Linked DNA regions of Homo sapiens: region 2 is linked to region 1. The links come from fine-mapping of genetic effects on plasma protein levels. A gene starts in region 1. The other region holds a variant in brackets. All regions are shown on one strand. Distances are between the middles of the regions.

The links. PIP is the chance, under the fine-mapping model, that this variant and not a neighbour inherited with it causes the effect. Protein levels are from antibody-based Olink assays in UK Biobank. Linkage for the fine-mapping came from a reference panel and not from the study's own genotypes, which makes the PIPs less certain.
Region 2: its variant is fine-mapped to the plasma level of the CALCB protein (UK Biobank, PIP 0.97).

The regions. Positions count from the first base shown.
Region 1 is chr11:15,071,132-15,076,470 of GRCh38, reverse strand. CALCB (calcitonin related polypeptide beta) reads right to left here and starts at 2,878. Exons shown (of 5, transcript NM_000728.4): 1 at 2,808-2,878; 2 at 1,667-1,761; 3 at 1,273-1,410. The coding sequence starts at 1,752. RefSeq lists a silencer at 1,383-1,432 and an enhancer at 1,475-1,976.
Region 2 is chr11:15,155,316-15,160,684 of GRCh38, reverse strand. The region is part of intron 2 of INSC (INSC spindle orientation adaptor protein); the gene reads right to left. Among named protein-coding and RNA genes, the nearest start is that of INSC, 43 kb to the right of the region's middle. The variant T/C (reference allele first, on the strand shown) is at 2,950.

The DNA.
Region 1 (5,339 bases):
CAAAAATACCAATACCAGCATGAAGACAAATCAGAGAGGAATCCACATGCATCAGGTTCATAAAGTGGAGCAAGAAGGGGAATCAGGAGAGTTGAGAGAAGTTCAGCTGCCATCTGGGGGACCCTGGAGTCGGGTAGTGGTCCCTCTGCAAGCTGTTGACTATGTCCCTATTCTTGCCAGGAATTTCAGGCCCGAAGTTGATGCCAGGGAACATATGAAAGTTTTTCAGGTACTGCAAGTATGTGCCCTGCAAGCAGGTACTCAGATTACTATACGCTACTTAAATCTAGGACTGCTCAAGCTGCAAGGGAAGGACATGCCAGACAGTACCATGCACTAGGGACTGTCCCCATGGGCAGTCACTCAGAAGGTTGGACCAGGCAGGGGACATGTCGAGTGGGAGCAGGTGGGGCAGGCAGGAGGGCAGCTCACACACACTCCATTAGGAGAGGTGAGAGGGTCAGTGGGCCAGGGCAGTGTAGAGAAGGGCTGAATGAGGAAGGATGATCTTTTCTGGTATTCCCATGATGTTCAGCCCTTCATGCTCAACAGAGAGGTTCTCGGGGTGAATGTAGGTGTGACACATGCCTCTGCCCAGCAGTGCTGGGAGCAGGCCAGGGGTTGGTCTCTGCTCAGGCTCAACATGCACAAGGATGTGGGTCTGGGAAACGGTGCTCTCCCTGGCCTCATGACAACATGCACATCTCCACAGAGCTTGCACATCTAAAGGCTCAAACCTACCTCAGACACTGCTCTGTCCCCACCCCCTGCAAGGGCTTCATCTTCACCTTGCAAATGTGAAATGAAGGCTTCTTGCAGGTATGAAAGAATGGCATGCACATGTGAAATTTCTAAAACTTTCTGAGATATTGGGTCTATTCCTGACTTCACCCTTACCAGTCTTAACTCATCCAATGCTAGGAGATCTCCCAGTACTGCAAGAGCAATTTCCACAGTGAACGATTCCACACCTCCCCATTTCATTTTCTATCAGTTTTCACAAATTGAGTTTTTTCTATGTCTAGAAAAAGCTTCTACATCTATGTTCTAACAGCTTTCAGAAACGGAGCTTTTTATTGTGTCTAACCACACACAGTCCCTCCAGGTGCACTGGGACCTCTGTCTCCCTTGGAACTTGAGAAAGGGAGCCTGCTGGACAAATCAGCTTGCTGGACCCCTTGCCAGTGTGTTCTCTCCTGCCTCTTGGGATCCACCTTCCTGTGTATGCTGCGGGGAGAGGAGTCCCTGTGCTGGGCGCTTGGGGAACCTCACCTGGAGCCCTGTGTCTCCTGCTCCTGCTTCAGCTCACTGGCCTTCATCTGCACATAGTCCTGCACCAGTGCAGCCAGCAGGAGGCGCGCGTCCTCTTTACTGAGTGTGGCCGGGTCTGGGCTGCTCTCCAGGGCAGACCTGTGGAAGGGAAGCAAACTCCTTGCAGGCTGTGAGCCCCTGACTGACCCTCCCCAGGATAGGCAGCCAGGCTTCCTGGTCTCTGCTTCTTCCCCTGGGGATGTGGCCACCGCGACTCCCAGGGGACGGGCATGAGGCCAGGGTCCACCTGTGGGCACTGATTCACCAGGAGCCACGCGTGACTTCAGAGGCACAGAGCTGTCTGGTCCTAGGGGCAGTGGGAGCAGAAGGCGCCTCTGGCTCCAGGCTGTCTCACCTGAATGGCGCCGCCTGGAGGCTGCCCGCCTGGTACAGGACCAAGATACTGAGAGCCAGGAAGGGGGAGAACTTCCGGAAACCCATGCCGCCTCTCTGTAAAGGAAGGATGACGTTACTACTGCACCAGCACAGATCTAGGTTCCAGTCCTGCCTCTGCCACAACTGCCATGTGACCTTAGGCACGTTACTTCAGCTGCCTGAGCCTCTGTTCCCTTCATTTGCAGGAAGGGCTGCTGTGAATCTCAAGAGACACATTGCAGTGAGTGAATGGCTTGATAGAGCGGAAAAAGGTGTCCTAGGGGAAGGGTGGAGAGAAAGGATGAATTTTGGTTCTGTTTTGTTGAAGGCCAGGGAGAAGCCACACGCGCCCGTGCACACAAACAGACACTTCTGCCCTGATTTATGCCTAAACCAGGCGTGGACGCACCTTGCTGTAGACCTGCTCTCCCCTTCTCGCCTTCTCCTCTGCTGGGCTTCGCGCCAACGCATGCGAGGGGAAGGTGGGAAGGGTGGATTGGAAAGGAGCGCTCATTTCTCAGTCTTGGAACTGGGAAAAATTTTTAACGTGCCAGTTACGGGTGTCTCAGGACTCGCCCGCAAAGCCAGCCCTCTGCCGGAGCGCGTTTTAGCAGCAGATGCTGAGCAGCAGCTCCGCGAGGTGAGCGCCCAGGGTTCTAGTCCGCTAACAACACTGCCTTAGATCCGGACCGGAATCCCGGGAAGGCTCACCAGGGAGGCGCCTCAGAGGAAAGCTCAGGGTTCCGACCTCCCGGGAACGAAACATGCTCCCGAAGGACAAAGACGGCGCAGGGCGCTCCCGGACCCAACTCTGCAGAATCCTGCGCTCAGCCAGGCCCCAACGCCAGGGCTGCAGACCCGCCTACCTCCGCTCGCTGCGCTTCCAGCGCCCACGCTGAGCCATGGGGATGCTTGGGCTCCTCTCGCACTGGTAGGAGAAACTGCCAGGACAACCCTAACCGCTCGCCTTCTACGGGGCCTGGAAGAGAGCTAGGACCACCGCTGTAAGGTAGGACCAGATGGCGGCGGAGAGGCAGACAGGCAGATGGAGCAAACTGGATGAACTAGTCGAAGAAGCAGGTTATTCGAGTGAGCGGAATGGGGAATGGGAAGTTCCTCACCTGGCGACTAGAGTTTCAGGGCAGCGCGAGCGGCCGGTCGACCCGGGATGAACACCACACCTGCTGTGGGCGCCTTCCCCGCGGAGACCCCGCTCTTATTACAGAGATAGCTGGAGGGGGGGGGTCCCCACCAGCCCGCGCGGCCAATCCAAAGTGGCCAGGACTAGCCAATCAAAGGACCGACCGAGCTCCGATTGCGTCATAGCTCGCACTGCCGGCACTGGTACTCTGGAGCGGGGGCAGTCCGCCCCGCTGTCATTTTTTTCATTGAGGTCATTGCTTGGGAAGCTGGAGAGCCTGGGAGAGGACAGAGATTTTTCAACTAAGAGTCGGGGCAAGTCGAGGAGAGTTTGGCGTCACCTACAGTGAGGGGCCAGAGCTGCTCTCACCTCCTTGGCTCCTAAATTCCTGCCTCGCACTCCCTCCTGTCACGCCAGTGAGGGACCCGAATCCAGCCACCCGAACCCCCAGCGAGGTTGAGCAGTAGTAGTCCTGGGTTCTAAAGGGACCACAGCTGAAAGAGCCCACGGCAGGGAAGGAGGGGGGGGGAGGGAAAAGGGGAGGGAGGGGTCCTCAAAATTTGATCTTTTTGGACCACCTGGGGTGCTTCCCTGGATATCCTCCGACCCCTCGAGCCCTGGCAACCTGGGCACCCAAAGAAGGCTGTTTTGGTGCCAGTCTGGCAGCCAGCCCTTCTCCACCTCACTCCTCTGGGACGGGCAGGAGCCGAAGAGAGGTTGGGGAGAGGGCTAAACTGACATAGCCTGCATACAAGGCTCAGCATCCACCTCCTCCCTCTTCCCCTATATCCCCAAATCCTCGACCGCGGGTCCAGCATCCCCCACGCCAAGCCAGGACCCTCCACTGCTGCGCCGAAGTTGGCTTACACAGCTGCCCTGCAACTCTGCCACCTGTTTGCCAAGCTGCCTGGCGGAGATGGTCTATGCCCGGGTCTCTATCTCTCTCGTTCCACACCCCTACCCCACTTCGCTGAAGCGCCTGAGAGCTGAGCGCGCTGGGGTCCAGCTGCCACCCACGGAGGGGAGCAGGTGCTGCAGCGCGAGAGTCAGCCTGAGAATTTTCACACAAGTTCCACTCGCGACTACAGACCAGCCAGTGCGCGCATCATCACTCACATGGCAGGACCCCCACCACACGCTCTGCCTTCTGCATTCACAGACAGTCCATCAGACAGCCAGCACTCACTGGAACAGATGCGCCCTCACCAGCTGCTCCGAAAAGGGAGCGTGCGCAGGAACCCAAACTAACCACACCCATACCCGAAAGCAACCCCGTGTGTTTCTGTTTCCAAAAACAGGCGTGTTTTATGCAATTGGGGGTACATACTGTCCCCTAAACATGCACACCGACACATGCACGTCCACGCACACAAACTCGGCCTATCCATCTTTTCTGAAGGAAAGCCGGGTTCTGGGAGTCGGCACTGCCAGCTCTTCTTGCTCCCGGGTTCCAGGAGAAGATCCCAGCTTTGGCAGAATAGGCTAGGAAGGAGCTGGGGGTAGGGGCGATGGCAAGAAAGAAAGGGGCGCCTCTCACCACAGCCCCCAGCCCCGGGCCTCCGGTTCGCTCTCTGACGCTTGGCAGCAGCGACCCTAAATAAGTCCGCCGGCGCCCACTGCACTCCTGGAGAGCATTCGGGAAAACTTGCTGGAGGCTGCCGGGCAGGAAGCAAAGCCAGAGGCTGGCGGAACCCCTGCAGGTGATGCTCACTGTTTCTGCGGGTCAGAAAAAAGTTCAGGGGATATCTGTCTAGGCCCTCTGGGTCCTTTTCTTGTGGCAGGACCCAGCTGGTGGGACTAGGGCGGGTTGGCCTCCAGCACCCGTGCAATGGAAACTCCAGGTAACACCCACGAAGAATCGGGACCGCTGACTCGGGTGACTGCCGCCCGGCCTGCAACTCAGATGCGCAGCGTGCACTGAGGCAGGGTGACCTGCAGTCGCCCCCTCCCCTGGGAAGGCAGTCAGAACTGTTCTAGAAGTAGCTCCGGCCTGTGGCGGACTCGAAGTAAGGCAGGAGGACTTCCAGGACCTTTGTAGTACCACACCAGGAACTGCAGCTCTCTAAGGAGTATTTCTATGTATGCGAAGGTTCTCTACGTCTAGACTGTTGGATGCGCTTTTGTGTTTTTGGTTCTGCTTTGTTTTTTAATTTTTAATTTGTGTAAGTTCATACTAGGTGTATACATTTATGGGGTTCATGAGATGTTTTGATACAAGCATACAATGTAATAATCACATCATGGAGAATAGGGTATTTGTCCCCTCAAGCATGTATCCTTTGTGTTACAAACAATCCAATTACACTGTTTTAGTTATTTTTAAATGTACAATTAAGTTATTATTGACTATAGTCACCCTGTTGTGCTAGCAAATGGTAGGTCTTATTCATTCAATTTTTTTTGTACCCTTTAACCATTCCCATCTCCACCATCACCACCCATTACCCTTCTCAGCCTCTGATAACCATCTCTACTCTCTAGGTCCATGAGTTCAACTGTTTAGATTTTTAGA
Region 2 (5,369 bases), 84 kb before region 1:
TAACTGTCAAACTCCAGCATTGTAGATGCCCTCTGATTGAGAGAAGACATTGTTAACACTCTATGATCTTTCATTAACTCATGAATGACTTATTTTTTAACCTCTAAAAATGGTATGTGTGTGTATCTGTATTGCCAGCATGAGAGTCATTATGGTGATATAAGCCACAAGAACACCTGATTAGGAGCCATCACCTGTGCCCTCCTCCCACTCCCTCCTCTTGATAGCTGTGTGCCCCTACACATGACACTTGTCATCTCTGAGCCTCAGTTTCCTGATCTGGTCATTGCCCCCTTATTTCCAACCATTGTCCCAGCCCTGAGTTATTTCAGTCCTGCTACTGTGACTTCCAGCCTCCCAGGCTTTGCACATGCTGGTCCCTCTCTCCCACTTCCTCTTCACCTTGCTGGCTTCTACACATCATTGAGGTCTTGACCTTGATCTCTCTTCTGAAGGAGTCCTTTGTGACTCCTCAACAAATTTATGTCCCATGTGCCCCACACGTCTGTAAGCACTCTGTCTCTCCTCTGATCTATACTGGTCTCAATTGTTTAACAACTTTTAAATGTCTGCCTTACCCCCTAGATGATGCAGGGCAGATCTTGTGTCTGTCTTGTCCTACCTACAAGCCACCATGCTACATGCTACAGTATCTGCAAGGCAATGGACCTGACACACCAATGATGCAGCTGGTGTATATGTATGGAACTTAATTACATTTAAACATTTTTCAAGTGGGAATAATAATAACCTATGCTGCTGTCCTGTCTCATCGGGTTGTGAGGGTCAGGGGGATAAAATCCATAATCATTATAATAGCACTAATTGAGGACGGGCCCTATGCCAATTATCATGTGGATTGATTCACATGTATTATCTCAGTTGATTCTCACAATGACCCTGTGAGGAGGGTACTCTTATGATTTTACTTTTACAGATGAGGAAACTGAAGCTTAGCAAGGCCAAATAACATATCTGAGATCACACAGATCACAAGTGGCAAAGTTTGGCTCTGAACCCAGCTCATCAGTGTCTAGACTGTATGTTCTTAAGTGTTATGTTAAACTGCTTTAGGCTGTGCTCTGTTCCAATGTCATGTGCAGTACTGTCAGGTAAAAATTTTAAATGCATTCTTACACACACATCCAGCTATTCCCATTGTTTGTCATGAATTTTCATGGCAGTAACATGGGATTTGATGTATAGACTACAAATGGTTTAGCTTTGTTTTTTCTATTCTGTTCTTCTCCCTACTTTAAAGAGAATATTTTCATTTGCCAAAGTGGACATTTAGGATAATTCACAGACGTAATGTGCCCATTACCATCCTGATACCTCTGCATGCTTCTGTGAAATGCAGGTGAGGGTATAGAAATCACCACTAGAGGGTTTCCAAGAGCCAGTCTCTCCACCATCTACAAGGCTCCAGAACTCTCCATCAGCCTCCAGCCATCACTTGGGTACCTTGCCTCCACCATGCCCTGGCTCCACTCCCAAGCCTCAGGCTCCTAAGGAGGATTCTCTATTTTCAGTTGTAGGCAGACCCAGGGACAAAAGATCCTTCACCTGGGGCTGCACTGGCAGCTCTGCCCTCCAAACGGGCCCCCAGGTGCAAGAGGCCAGGAGAAGTTGCCTGTCTCAAGTCCTACAGCCAGTGCACACTGGGGCCAGGCCTGGAGACCTAGTCTCCTGGTGTTCTCCATGGGCCTGCTCAGAACAAGCCCTGTTCTAGGAGCTGAGGCTACAAAGTTGAACAGGAGAAAATTCCAGCCTTCATAGAGCTCAGCCAAGACCCAAACAGGCAAAAAAAAAAAAAAAAAAAAACCACCAACAATTCATCTGGTTATAATTATAAGAGCAGTTGAAGTGTTGAGTTCCAGCAAGGAGTCAGGCAGTGTCCAAGCCCTCTCTATATATTATCTCCTTTAAGCCTGCCCACAGCCATGTGAGGGAAGTAGTATTATTACCCCCGTTTACAGATGAGGAGACTTTTGTTTGGAGAGGTCACATGGTGAGTAAATAATGGAGCCATTACTCAAACCCAGGCCTCTAGAGTTCAGAGTCTCAGCTTCTATCACCTAAACACCACACTACCAAGAAGATGTGAGCAGGATAGACTACGATCACAGAAGACAGAGGGCCTGACTTCGCCTGGGAATATTTACACAAAGGAAGTGACATTTGCCCTAGTTCTTAGAGGAGAGGAGTTGCCAGGATGACAAAGGCAAAAAGACTTCCACATAGGGGAGACACCATGTACAAAGGCCCAGAGGCATATGGTCAAAAAGTCATATGGCAAGAAGTTTCACTAGACTATAACATCAGGGGCCTCTGAGGGTGGGGCCAGGAACGGGTCTGAAGAGAGAAACAGGGACTAGTTGATCAAAGATCTCGAATGCCATGATCAGGGATGTAGATTTAATCCCAAAGACAACTTGGAGCCACGAAAAGCATTTTAGAGCAGGGAAGTGACAACAATTGTGCAAAGAATCAGTAAAAAATTAATCACAGCCAGGTTAAATCCTAGGCAGGAGAGTAGCCTGTTGGGAAATGATAGTTATAAAACAGAAAGAGAAGAAAGACAGAAGCCTGAACTAAGGCAATGGCATGGGATAGGAAGATCTGGGAGGGACAGGATAGGATATGAGTGTGAAGAAAAGGAAAGAATCGAAGTTGACTCCCCTGGTTTCTCCTGAAGCTGCTGCCCTCGCTGAGATAGGAAACACATCCAGGGAGGAACTGTTTTCATTTGGTTTGATTACAGGGTGTGGCCTCTGACAAGTGGAGAGCACAGGGCCACAGCAGAAGTGGGGGTCAGGCCTTGCAGAGGGGCCCATCGAAGGGGGCCCCAGCTTTCTCAGGAAGGAGACTGGACCTGGTGAATCCCACATGGCCCCACCACAAGCCCATCTAATACCAGCCACAGTCACGGTGCCGCCACATAATAAG[T/C]GCCCTTCTCAATTTTGGGAGTCTAGGGACTGTGGCTCATTAAGGTTTGGACTGTGTTAGTGCTGAACATCCCATAATTGCATAGCTTGCCTGACTCTCTGTCATTAGCTCGCTGACTCTCTGGGCTCCACCTCTCCTACTGGATTTGCTGCTTGACCCCACTATGAAAAGTCTGATTACACAGAGCAGTTCTGGCTGTGTGGTGGGGGCTGCCTGCTGCCCCTGCCCCTTCCAACTCCCAGTGGGTCAATTGTCCTCAGCCATAAACTTCGAGCTGCCATCTCACCATGCATGAAATCCTTCCTTTGCAAGTACGAACAACTGATCCTATTACTCACACAGAGGACGGGAATTGAAAATTGAGGTAAAGGCAGATGGACTGGCAATGAGTCACATTCCCTTCATGGTGGAAAACCACCAGAGTCAGGAGCTTGTAAGGTCCCTGGCCAAGGAGCTGGAGAGGCCAGGGGCCAGGACTTGGGTTTGATTTCCTTAGTCTCCACAGTGAACTGAAATCTGAAGTTGATGCTATTAAGATTGTCCCCTTGCCTGGAGAGCAAGAAGGGCATCCAAGACAGTGAACGTGGCTCCCAGGAGTCCTACCCAGTTCCCAGAAGTTGCCTATTCCTCAAGTAGCCCTTTTCATTGCATTCTGATGGAGGCTGTCCTGAACATCTGGAATGAGGGGACCAAGTCCTAAAATTTGGGCTTTCTGAAGTCTGGCAGACTCAAACACAAAGCAAAATGCAACTACAATCATCTCCACATACCAGGTTATAGGCCAGGTAAGTTTTTTCTAAGCTGGAATTATCCAGGGTGGAATTGGGGTGGGAGAAGGGAGTAGCAAAGTCTCATACCAAGAAATTGCAGTATGAAACAGTGTTCTTCCTACTATATTTCCTCAGGGGTATTCCAAAGTCAGAAGGAATTAACCCACATAACAAAAAGGGAGGATTGCCACCTATAGTGCATCTTCGATGTACCAAGAACCTTCTGCTCCAGGCCTCACTGTGGTTTGATGATTGGAGATTGCCATCCCCATTCTACAGATGGAGAAACTGAGGCCTAGCGGCATTACATAACTTGTCTAAGACCTCATTGTTAATAGTGGCAATAAAGCTAAAATTGATTGGGTACTTATTACATTCTCGGCAGTGTGCTAAATGCTTGATTCAATCTTAATGGCTTAATTAACCCTCAAAACAATCCTATGAGATTCCCAGAACTGAGATTTGGTAGGCTGGGTGACTTGGCCAACATCACACAATGAATAAGTGGAAACAAAAATCCAGGCAATGTGAGACCAGAGCCTTGTTCTTAATTATTATGCTGTGCTCTTTGATGGTTTTCAGCAATTTAGCTAATACTGAAACCCTCAAATCCAAAGCTGGAGCTCTTTCTGCTATGCAAGACTGCCCTTAGGTGACATACAGTTGCCTTTTTATAGTTTATGATCATATAAAGACGATGGAGTGTCTGGTCTTTTTTCAAACCCTTGTCTGGTTTCTTTCTGAGGAAAATTGGGGTGCATGTTTTCAACATTCAGGACAGAACTTCTGACCCTGGCCTCAACATCACAGACCTCTGATGGATTTGTAGCAGCAGCAGGGAAGCCCAGAAGACCATGTAAGTAGTGATACAGTGGGGAGATATCCTCATGGGACCCTGACTGCCTAGAGGTCTCCTCATTCCCTCAGTGGCCTTGCCCTGCCTCTGCCCTTGCCTTGTGGACCGCCTCCTTCATTCCCCAAAGCCTACCACTTGGAGAAGGTCACTGTGCCTGACCCCTCAGAGGCCAAAGAGAACAATTTTCCCAGCTCAGAAGATCTGTACCTGGCCTCCATCTACTGGTACCAGTTCCTTATTCCCAGCTTATCCTGCTGATCTGGTGTCCAGTGTCCCCAAAACTCTAGGGTGAATAGTTTGTGGAAATCTATGCCTATTCTTTTCTTGGCTCATTTTAATTTCTTTTCATTTAGAATGGAACTTTAAAAGTCTTCAAATTCTGGAATTTGGATTTCTCTGCCTTACTTTAGTCTACCTTCTGTGTGAAGTGGGGAGTTCTCTGTAAAGGAACAATTTACTATACCTGAAACACTTGGAAGTGACCTCCAAAACGTACTAAGCACCCCAAATGGGCCAGGCACTGGGCCTGTGTGCTAGGATTACGGAGGAGAGATGTGAGAATATGGTCCGCATGAGGGCAGGATCGTTTATTGCACAGTGACATACTCCCTCTACCTACAACAGCACCCAGTACTTCATAGGCACTCTATAAAGATTTACTAAATAATTGTAAACAAACCATTATGGATCACTGTGCTGCAAATGGCATTTTGAAGTTAACACAGAGGGTTAGCAGAGCACAGAGAAGAGATATGTAACCCAAGCCAGAATATCTCAGTAGGTTTTCCAGGCTA